Linked DNA regions of Homo sapiens: region 2 is linked to region 1. A link means that fine-mapping ties the variant in region 1 to the expression of a gene that starts in the linked region. Tissue or cell type: whole blood. Region 1 holds a variant in brackets; the other region holds the start of a gene. All regions are shown on one strand. Distances are from middle to middle.

The links. PIP is the estimated chance that this variant, and not a neighbour inherited with it, causes the effect.
Region 2: GOLGA7B starts here. The variant in region 1 is fine-mapped to the expression of GOLGA7B in whole blood (TOPMed, PIP 0.99).

The regions. Positions count from the first base shown.
Region 1 is chr10:97,822,272-97,827,656 of GRCh38, reverse strand. LOC107984260 (a long non-coding RNA gene) reads right to left here. Exons shown (of 3, transcript XR_001747563.2): 1 at 4,969-5,385. Among named protein-coding and RNA genes, the nearest start is that of GOLGA7B-DT, 25 kb to the left of the region's middle. The variant G/A (reference allele first, on the strand shown) is at 2,372.
Region 2 is chr10:97,846,627-97,852,011 of GRCh38, reverse strand. It overlaps GOLGA7B (golgin A7 family member B), which reads right to left and starts at 2,169. Exons shown (of 5, transcript NM_001010917.3): 1 at 1,697-2,169. The coding sequence starts at 1,708. GOLGA7B-DT (GOLGA7B divergent transcript) reads left to right here and starts at 2,214. Exons shown (of 3, transcript NR_108035.1): 1 at 2,214-2,346.

The sequences.
Region 1 (5,385 bases):
GCAATGCAACACAAATACATAATAAACTAGAAGGTGATCAACACTTAGAAGGGATATAGAAGAGGGAGGAAAGATGGGGAGGGGGGGCAGGGTGCTGGCAAGGGCCAGGGGGCAGTTTGCAATTTTAGGCAGCACAACCAAAGACCTCACTAAAGAGGTGACGTGGCTGGGCATGGTAGCTCACGCCTGTAATCCCAACATTTCTGGGGGACAAGGCAGGAGGATTGCTTGAGCCCAGGAGTTTGAAACCAGCCTAGGCAACATGGTGAGACTCTATGTCTACAAAAAATTTTAAAAGACTAGCTGGGCATGGTGGCGCATACCTGTGGTCCCAGCTACTCAAGAAGCCAACCCAGGAGGATTGCTTGAACCCAGGAGGTTGAGGCTACAGTGAGCCATTATTGCACCATTGCACTCCAGCCTGGGTGACAGAACAGGACCTTGTCTGAAAAAAAAAAAAGTGACATGTGATTGAAGACCTGAAGGAGGCTAGATAGGGCAAGCCATACGGACACCTGGGGAGGAGCATTCCAGGTGCAGGAGCAGCAAGTGCAAAGGCCCTGAGGCAGGAGTACTCTGGCAAGTTCCAGGCATGGTGAAGAGGCCAGCAGCTAGAGCAGAGTGACAGGAAGGGAGCAGCATGGGAACACAGGGAGTATGCTAAGGGGCAAATCAAGTCAGGCAGGGCCTGAAGACTGTCACAAGGATTGTGGCTTTTCCCTTGCATGAAAGGGGAGTCCCTGGAGGCTTGTAAGCAAAGGAAGGATATTATCTGCCATATGTCTTAACAGAACTACTCTTGCTACTGTGTTGAGAACAGATGAAAGAAAACTGGGAAACCCAGTTATTATTATCACCATCACCATCACCATCACCATCACCATCACCAACTATAGCAGCAACAGCCAGTTACTGCCCCTGCACCAGGCTCACTGCCACCCACTTCACTGTTACTGTCTAGTTTACATCTCACAACAACCTGTACAGACAGACGGCCTTATTTCTCCCATTTTATAGCTGAGGAAACTGAGGCTTGGCCAAAGTCAGAAGGTCACACAGATACACGCCCTCCATAATCCAGCCCACGCTCTGGCTCCTCTGCCCAGCCTCGTCTCCCACACCTCCCTTCTCACCTGCACCCAGCCTCCCACCCCAGGGAGCTACTCCCAGTTTCCCCAACTCCACGCATCCTTCCAGGCCTCTGATTTTTTTCATATGCTGTTCCAGCTGCCTAGAACTCTTTTCTCCCATACCTAACTGGCATGTGAATTTCAACCCATCTTTTGAGAGACAACTCAAACTTTGCCCCTTTGGGGGACCCCTCCCTGATTGCCTCCAGCACAGCAGCTCATGGCCACCTCCCCAGAAATATGAGGCATTGCAACTACTGCGCAGCTGGCCTCCCACATACCATGTGAGCGCATGGCCGGGGGCTGGAGCTCATCAACCTCAGTTTCCCCAGCAATCAGTTTTGCAACCTGACAGGTCTCAGGCTCAAATCCTGCTGACACTCTGTTGGCCTAGGTGATTTTAAATTTCTCTGTTGCAATTTAATTCTGAGTCACACTTCCTTCATGCATGTCCATTTCTGTGCACGTACCCCTGACCTTGGACAGATACACGCAGAGCCTTGAGCTGATGGGTGCCATTGAGCTTCAGAAGAACGATGCTTGTAACAGAGGAGGAGGTGCACGATGCAGAGGGAGCCCTGTGCATTTTAGAATCAGCCAGACCTGAGTTCACATCCCGTTCTGCCTCTCACTGGCTGTGTGGCCATGAGCAAATCATTTAACATGGGCCTTCCTATCTTTGTCTATAAATGAGGCAAGTGATATCCACTCCCATGAGTTTTGTGAAATCTGGAAATTGTACAAATGCAATGCCTGGCCCTGAATGTGCCCTCAAGATGTGGCATTAATGTCTCCTTGCCTGTCCCGTCCCTAACCCCAGGAGTATCCTATACATTACACTTGTCCACCGTGCTCTTGGGAGGCCTCATGGGCCTCAAGGGCTAGTGTACTAAGCCAGAATCCCCCACTTCTGGCCCCAGTCCTCTCTCTGAGGCAGGGCCTATAGTTTCCTGGCAGTTTCCCCTGCCCTGGGACCTGGAACCCTGCCCCTGGCCGGCCCCACTGCCTGGAAGGTCCACGTGCTCACTCCTTCCCGCCCACCAACTGCCCTGCCTCCATTGCTACCAGGCCTTCCTGCCTGATTAGCCAGGACAGCCACACTTCCAGCAGACAGTGGGAAACAAGTAACTAAGGAGGGGAGATGCCACAGCAAGGAACAGGTCAGAACAACATTTGATGCCAGTCACTAGGCAAACACCCCAGATCCTGGTCACTCAAGGTATTGTAACATGCCAGGTCAG[G/A]GAGGATTTGAAGGTGCAACGCCCTCACTTTACAAATGAGAGGCCCAGAGGGGGTAAGACACTAGCTCAAAGTCACACAGCGAGACAGGAGGAGGCTTTGGACTTGCCCCTGGCCGCACTCTTCCTACTGCACCAGGCTCCCCCTCATCAGGGGCCACGTTTGTTTTTTGTTTTTTGTTTCTTTTTTCTCCAGATGGACTCTGGCTCTGTCACGCAGGCTGGAATGCAGTGGCACAATCTCGGCTCACTGCAACCTCCGCCTCTTGGGTTCAAGCAATTCTCGTTCCTCAGCCACCCATGTAGCTGGGATTACGAGTGTGCACCACCACACCTGCTAATTTTTGTATTTTTAGTAGAGATGGGGTTTTGCCATGTTGGCCAGGCTGGTCTTGAACTCCTGGCCTCAAGCAATCCTCCAGCCTCGGCCTCCCAAAGTGTTGGGATTACAGGCGTGAGCCACCGCACCCAGCCAGAGACTACTGTTGAACTGGACTGACCGCAGGAGCAAAGCAGCTTGTTGAAGGCCCTGTAGCTCTGTTTCCCTTGAAAGATATCAAAACCCTTTCAGCATCTTAATCCCCAAAGGCATGACACCTGACATCAGTCTCTTGAGTGGCCTGCAGGGAAGCCATTGTCCAAGCTGTGTGCAGCCACCAAATCCACTGACTAAGCTCTGAATCCGCAGTCTCCTGAGGTTGCCGTTTGTTCTCTGTCTATGGACTGCTACTACATGTGCAGCTGCACTGTGCTTGAAACCTCAACAGCGTATCTCAGGGGTGGGTAAGGGAGGCTGGGATAAATGGAGCCCCAGCCTCTGAAGGCCTGACGTGGAGGTTGTGCAGCTCATCCCTGGGGAGTCCTATCTAGTGGGGGCTCGGGGGGCGACTCGGGGATCTGTACCATAAGCAAACTCCTCCAGGGATTCTGATGTGCTGCCATGTTGGGGACCACCAGCCTAATCCAGCCCTTCCCTCATGGAGTCCCCTCCTCCACACCCTCACAGAAGACCACTCATCGGGGGACTGGGAGCTCATCACCTCACAGGTGGCAGTGCCCCAGCAGTGAGTACACAGGCTGTGCCACGCTGAAATCTGCGTCCAGAATCCTCGTCTGCCCTCTGTGGCTGACCAGTCAAATGTCTCTTCTTCCTCAGGAACAAAATCAGACCCTATTGCAGCCCTGTGTCCAACCGCTGGCCGCCCAGATACTGTTCCTGCCCGGGGGGCTCCTGGTGTCCCCTTAGGCCTGACAAGGGAGAGACTCTCCGTGTCCAGCACGCAGGCTCCATTTGCGGGTAACTGCTCCTCCTCCTGCCCCACCCACACACGCCCATCTGTGCCAGACACCGCCGAGCACCAGGACACAGTGTCCTCCCCAGCCTGAGACCAGAGCAGGCCTGATCAGGAACACGCAGGACCCTGCCTTCTCTGCCCAGTGGCCTCTTGCTCCTGGTGCCATCGTGTCTACTTGAGATATTTCCAAATAGAGAATATAGAAACAATGAGCATTCCTCCCAAGAAACCGGGCTTGAAATCAGAACACCTGGGTCCTCCCAGGGCCCCCATCACTTCCAGCTATGGGACCTTGAGCGAGTCCCAGGGCCCATCTGGTGAATGGGGCTGCTGAGGGAAATTCAGACAAGCATCAGAGCCCACCGTGCCCTTCCCTCTCGGTGTCAGGTGTTTTCTGCCTTTGCCTGAGCCGTGGCCACACTCCCTTGCTAATCCTTCAGACGACTGACACGTATACAGCTGTTGCCCTGGCCTGAGACCCTGATGTGGCCTGACCGGCATGGGCCCCTACCCAATGCACTAACTAGCAGCAAATGAGCCTTATTAAAAAATATTTGAGGCCGGGCATGGTGGCTCATGCCTGTAATCCCAGCACTTTGGGAGGCCGAGGTGGGTACATCACTTGAGGTCAGGAATTCGAGACCTGCATGGCCAACGTGGCAAAGCCCTATTTTTACTAAAACAAAAAAAAAATACAAAAATTAGCCAGACGTGGTGGCGTGCGACTGTAATGCCAGCTACTTGAGAGGCTGAGGCAGGAGAATCACTTGAACCCGGGAGGCAGAGGTGGCAGTGAGCTGAGATCGTGCCACTGCACTCCAGCCTGGGCAACAGAGCAAGACTCTGTCTCAAGAAAAAAAGAAAAGAAAAAAGGCCAGGTGCAGTGGCTCTCACCTATTTATAATCCCAGCACTTTGGGAGGCTGAGGAGGGAGAATTTCTTGAAGCCAGGAGTTTGAGACCAGCCTAGGCAACACAGGGAGACCACATCTCTACAAAAACTTTTAAAATTAGACGGCTGTAATGGTGTGCGCCTGTAGTCCCAGCTACTCAGGGGGCTGGGATGAAAGGATTGCTTGAGCCTGGGAGGTTGAGGCTGCAGTGAGCCAAGATCGCACCACTGCACTGCAGCCTTGGCAACAGAGCAAGACTATCTCTAAATAAAAAAAATTTTTTTTTAATAATTGCATAGAGCTGCCTAGCACAGTGCAGGGACATGAGGGTTCAGTAAATATTTGTGGTATCTAATTTAGGAACACCAACCTGTACCCACCAAGGAGAATAAAAAATATACCTTAGTACTCACCTAGTTCAACCTTTTCATTTTACCAATGAGGGTTCCCAGAGAAGGGAAGTGACTCATCCCAGGTTTCCCAGCAACTTTAGTCCATAGTGGCTCAGTTTGCCCAGCCAGAAATCCCCAATGCTCCCATCGAAGGTTGTGGCGCTGACAACATCACAGCTGAGAGGAGGACTCCATGGTGCCCAGAACCCCCGCAGCGCCATTCACCAGAGGTGGACAACACTCCCTCCCGGCATCCCCCTGGGCCTGGCTTCTGACCAGAACCCTGCCCTGGACATCTCAAAAGCCCTCAGGACCTCGGTGCTGCCACCTGCTCACAGAGTGTGGCGGGTACGGGGGTGGACAGCCCACGTCCCTCTGCCAGGTTATTTATAAAGTGTTTTCAGATGAGTCAGGCACGGAGCTGCCCAGCACCACCAG
Region 2 (5,385 bases), 24 kb before region 1:
TAACACCATCCTTACCCACTTCATAGGGCTGCTCTGAGGCTTGAAAGAGATCACTTATGCGATAGTGCTTTGTACACAGGAAAGCGCAATATTTTCAGAGGCGTTATGAGCAGAGCCCCTCCCAGGGGAGAGTCACACATGTCTCATAGCAGCCTCCTGGAAACGCTGTCTTGACATAGAGATAGAAGCCTGCTGGTTGGAATCTGTGGGCCATGGCAGACATCCTGGGACAGATGGGCCTGTTGGAATCTGTCAGATCACATCGCAGAGGCAGCTGCCTTCTCTGCCCACGCTGCTGGCCCAGCCATGCCCATGTAGCTGAAGTTCCCCTTTTCTGTCCAACACAGCAGCCTCTGCTGCAGTCTGGCAGCCCTATCTGGAAGGTAACCAACTCCTTGGTTTCTCCCTTTGTTCTTCCTGCTGTCCTCCATGTCTTTGGTGCTTTGTGAGTACTCTGCATTCCTCTACTCTAGAAACCAAGCTCCCAGGGTCTGCCCAGGGCTTGCCCTCACACCAAGTCCTGAGGGGCAACTCTCCGCCTAGCTAACCTTGTGCCTTGTCAGAATGCCAAGCAATGCCAAGCAACAGCACCTTGTTCTGTGGTGGAAACTTGAGTGGAATAACAACAGCCACACTTGGTATTAATGTCACACTGCTCACCAGGATGCCCAGAAGCACTGCATTGAATCATTCACAGGCCTCTGCTCTCCCCCAGTGTATGCCAGCTGGATTGGAAATGGGGAGACACCACAAAGGAAGTCAACATCAGAACTGGGGAGACCCTGATGTCCTGAGTTTCGCTCCAAAAATTCAAAGGCAAAAACTTTCCGCTCTGCTGCTGACATGCTGTGTGGAGTAGCAAATTAGTCCTTTCGTTTTCCACACATCACCTTTATCATGTATAAAGTGGGAACATAAAGAGCCCAATCTCCCTCCTGAAATGAGGGGGGAAAGGGCAATCCCTAGGGGTAGAGGGGGGAATCCTCGACCTCAAGCATTATACCAAGATTCTGCCCTTAGCTAACAGGCCCCGTGGTTCAGCCTTCAAGTGCTTGAAGGTGACACACCTATCAGTGCACCTTGAAGAAGGCAGAAACTCCCATCAGATGGAGGGGAAATCTGGACACCCTGGGACAAAAAAAAAAAAAAAACTCGAATGGGGTAAAAAAGCAAGAAGGGTGATATGCAAAAGTGGAGACCAACCATTTGGGTTCTCAGCCTGAGGATGTCTTTGTCCCCTCCCTCCCGCAAAGGAAATGCGGATGTAGAGGTAAGTCTGTCATCCCTTAGCCAAGCTTTTGGGTTCAGAAGCTGACTGCATAGCAACAGCGGACAGCCGCCTTCCCTCCCCTCACACACGCACACACACGCGTCTCCAACCCTCTAGGAAAGCGGTTTCAGGACTTGTGAAGTCCAGGGAAGGGGAAACCCCAGCCTGGGGCCCTGAAGCAACCCTGGCGCTAATGCCAACAAGTGTCGCGGACAGCTTGGGGGCTCAGGTGGGGCGAGGGGAAGATTGACACGCAAGGGGGAGATGAGCCCTCACTAAGCCCCTACCTCCTCCCTCCAGACCTGACCTGGGGAATCACCCCATCCCACCCCCAACTCCCGCCTCCCACTCCTGCCCAGCCCACCCCTAGGGCATTTGGTCCCGCGGCAATCGGGCACTGCCTGCGGGTGGGGCGCTCGCCCCTACCTCGGTGGCCATGATCCGGGGGCGCTCGGAGGCTGTCGCGGGGCCGGGCGAGGGGGGTCTCCGCGGTGCTGACCCCGGGAGCAGGTGGGCGGCGGCGGTGGCGGCGAGCTGGGGCCCGGGGCGCTGTCCGCAGTGCTGATGCGGGCGCCGCGGGCCCGGGCTCAGGTGGGCCGGGGGCGGGCGGGCGGCTGGGTCCAGGCAAGGGGCGCGGCGCTGTCCGCTGTGCTGAGGCAGGCGCCGGGCCCGGGAGGCGAGGCCGCGCCCGAGGCTCCTCACGGCCCGATCGCCCGCTGCCGCGGCTCCTGCAGGCAACGGCCGGGTTTAGCTTTGGCGGCGGCGGCGGCGGGGATGGGGGCGGCCGGGGGAGGAGGGGCCAGGAGCCGCCGCTGGCCGGGAGGGGGAAGCCGCGGCCCCCAGACTCCGGCGCCGCCGGAGAGGAGCCCCGCCCGGGCCACAGGCTCGGCTACCGCCCCGCGCGAGGCCCCGCCTCCCCTTCCTGCCCTCCCCCTCGTGAGAGCCCCGGAGCTCTGCGCTCGCTTCCGTGGCCCCCGGGACATCCAGCCTGAAGGACAGTGGGGCAGGAATTTTTCCGGGGCAAGACGCTTCAGCCTGCAAGGCTGACCGCTCCCGAGCCGCTCGCAGGCCCGCAGGTGAGGCCTCTCTACCTTTCCAGCCACCCCCAGTGCCCCGGCTCTACCCCTCCCTCGCCCCGCCCCCAGCTTCCTCTTTAGAATAATTTCTTTTCTTTCTCTCCCTTTTCCTCTCTGTGTGCCCCCCCCCCATATACACACAGTCAGGCTTGCACGGACGGCCCCTCTTTTCCCCTCTCCTTTGCACTTCCTGGAACCCCACTAGCTAGACAAAGATCCTGCCGACCGCAGAGAATCATTTCCTTTCTTTAAATACGTGCCCACATTTCGTTCTCAGCCATAGCCTGGGGTCCCTTCTTTCAGGCAGCTCCAGAATTGAAGCCAGTCTCTCCTTGCTGCTCTTCCTGGACCTGGTCCCCACCCTTTACTCTTCCCTCTCTCCTCTGCAACCCGAGTTTACATACACGCACCACCACTACCACCACCACTCAAAAACCACAAGCAGATGGTGCCAAACCGGTATGCTCACTCTCCAAGGATGGCAGGTCTGGCTCTGGTGCCACCTTCGCACTTTTGACATCATAAATTCCAACTAAATGATCTATTTGTTTAATAAAAAGGAGACCAGGTGCAGTGGCTCACACCTGTAATCCCAACACTTTGGGAGGCTGAGGTGGGAGGATTGCTTGAGCCCAGGAGTTCAAGACCAGCCTGGGCAAGACCCTGTCTGCACAAAAAATGAAAACATTAGCCGGGCGTTGTGATGTGTGCCTGTGGTCCCAGCTACTCAGAAGGCTAAGGCAGGAGAATCACTTGAATCCAAGAGTTCAAGGCTGCAGCTAGCCATGATTGTGCCACTGTACTCCAGCCTGGGCAATAGAGCAAGAGCCTGTCTCTTAAAAAAATAAAAATAAGGCCGGAAGCAGTGGCTCATACCTGTAATCCCAGCACTTTGGGAGGCCGAGACGGGTGGATCACCTGAGGGCAGAAGTTCAAGACCAGCCTGGCCAACATGCTGAAACCCCATCTCCACCAAAAATACAAAAAAAAATTAGCCAGGCATGGTGGCACCCGCCTGTAGTCCCAGGTACTCAGGAGGCTGAAGCAGGAGAATTGCTTGAACCCGGGAGGCAAAGGTTACAGTGAACTGAGATCACACCATTGCACTCCAGCCTGGGCGACAAGAGCGAAACTCTGTCTCAAAAAATAAATAAATAAATAAATAAATAAAATAGACATAAAAAAAAGGAAACACCAACACAAGTGCCTTTTTACATACCCATAATACCCCTTGGTCTCTTTGAGGGGTGGTGGGGTGTGCTCCTCTGCAGCTCACTGCTGCCTGAGAGTCTGAAGCCCACACACAGGGAGAACCTGGCGGCCAAGAGACCTGGCCCAGGCTTTTCCAGCTGTATAACCTCGAGCAACTGTCTTGTTTTCTGAGCTTATGGTTCTCTTTCTGTAAAATGTGAGTGTTGGATTTCACTAGACTGTTTCTAGGACCTTTTGTTTTTTCTCCAACCTTTTATTTTGACATTTTTAAACATACCAAAATGTTGAAAGAATAGTACAATAAACTATGCCATCTACCTAGCTCCAACAATTGCTTTTTGCCACATTTGCTTTATTGATAGATATGAAAACAGAGCTATATTTGCCTAGATTATCAGAAGGTGACAGATATCGTGGCCGGGCGCGGTGGCTCACGCCTGTAATCCCAGTACTTTGGGAGGCCGAGGTGGGCGGATCATGAGGTCAGGAGATTGAGACCATCCTGGCTAATACGGTGAAACCCCGTCTCCACTAAAAAATACAGAAAAATTAGCCGGGCGTGGTGGTGGGCACCTGGGGAGCTACTCCCCAGCTACTGGGGAGGCTGAGGCAGGAGAATGGCATGAACCCAGGAGGCAGAGCTTGCAGTGAGCCGAGATTGCGCCACTGCACTCCAGCCTGGGTGACAGAGCGAGACTCCGTCTCAAAAATAATAATAATAATAATAATAATAAGGTGACAGACATCGTGAGGTTTTATCTGTAAGTACTTCAATGAGATTTTATCTGTAAGTACTTCAATTCACCATGCATCTCCCAAGAAGAAAAGCGTTATCCCAACTAGGCACAACACCATTCTCATGCTTTATTTTATTTTATTTTATTGAGATAGGGTCTTGCTCTATCACCCAGGCTGGAATGCAGTGGCACCATCTCAGCTCACTACAACCTCTGCCTCCTGGGTTCAAGTGATTTTCAGCCTCCCAAGTAGCTGGGATTACAGGCACGCACCACCATACCCAGCTAATTTTTGTATTTTAAGTAGAGACAGGGTTTCACCATGTTGGCCAGGCTGGTCTCAAACTCCTGAGCTCAGGTGATCCGCCCACCTCAGTCTCCCAAAATGCCAGGATTACAGGCATGAGCCACCGCACCCAGCCAATTATCATGCTTTTAAAATGCCCATATTATCTAATATTCTAGAACAGTTTGTCACCCCTAAAACACATTAATAGCGATGACCCCTCAAAAATTTTCCCAGAACTTTTCATTTTTAGTAGCTAACATTTAGTGAGCACTTACCATGTGCCAGCCCATATGCTACACACTTTACATGTATGATCTTACGTAATCCTCACAATTACTCTTTGAGTTGTGTTCTTGTGATCTTTTTATTATTCCCACTTTATAAATGAGGGAACTGAGTAAGTTGCCCAAGGTCATAGGGTTTGTGGGGAATGGAGACAGGATTCAGACATGGGCAGTCAAGCTCCAGAGCCTGTGTGGTTGATCCTCCTAACTGTATTGCCTCCCTCCAGCATCTGGTAGACCATAGACTAGCAGAGCAATGACCACATCTCCAGCTGCCTATTTTGCAGATGAAAACGCTGAGTCCCAGAGTGTAAGTGACATGCTAAAGAAGTTAAAGGCGGGTGTCTCATTCTACCTTATAGTTTGGCATAGGATTTGGCATAAAGGACCAAACAGAATATCTATGAATCCTGCAGTGGTCACTGGTAATAAAAGAACACATAATCTGATGATCTCCATGTAAATTTCACAGTTCCTCCCACTTGATTTTTATCACATCAATTAGACAACCTTCTGG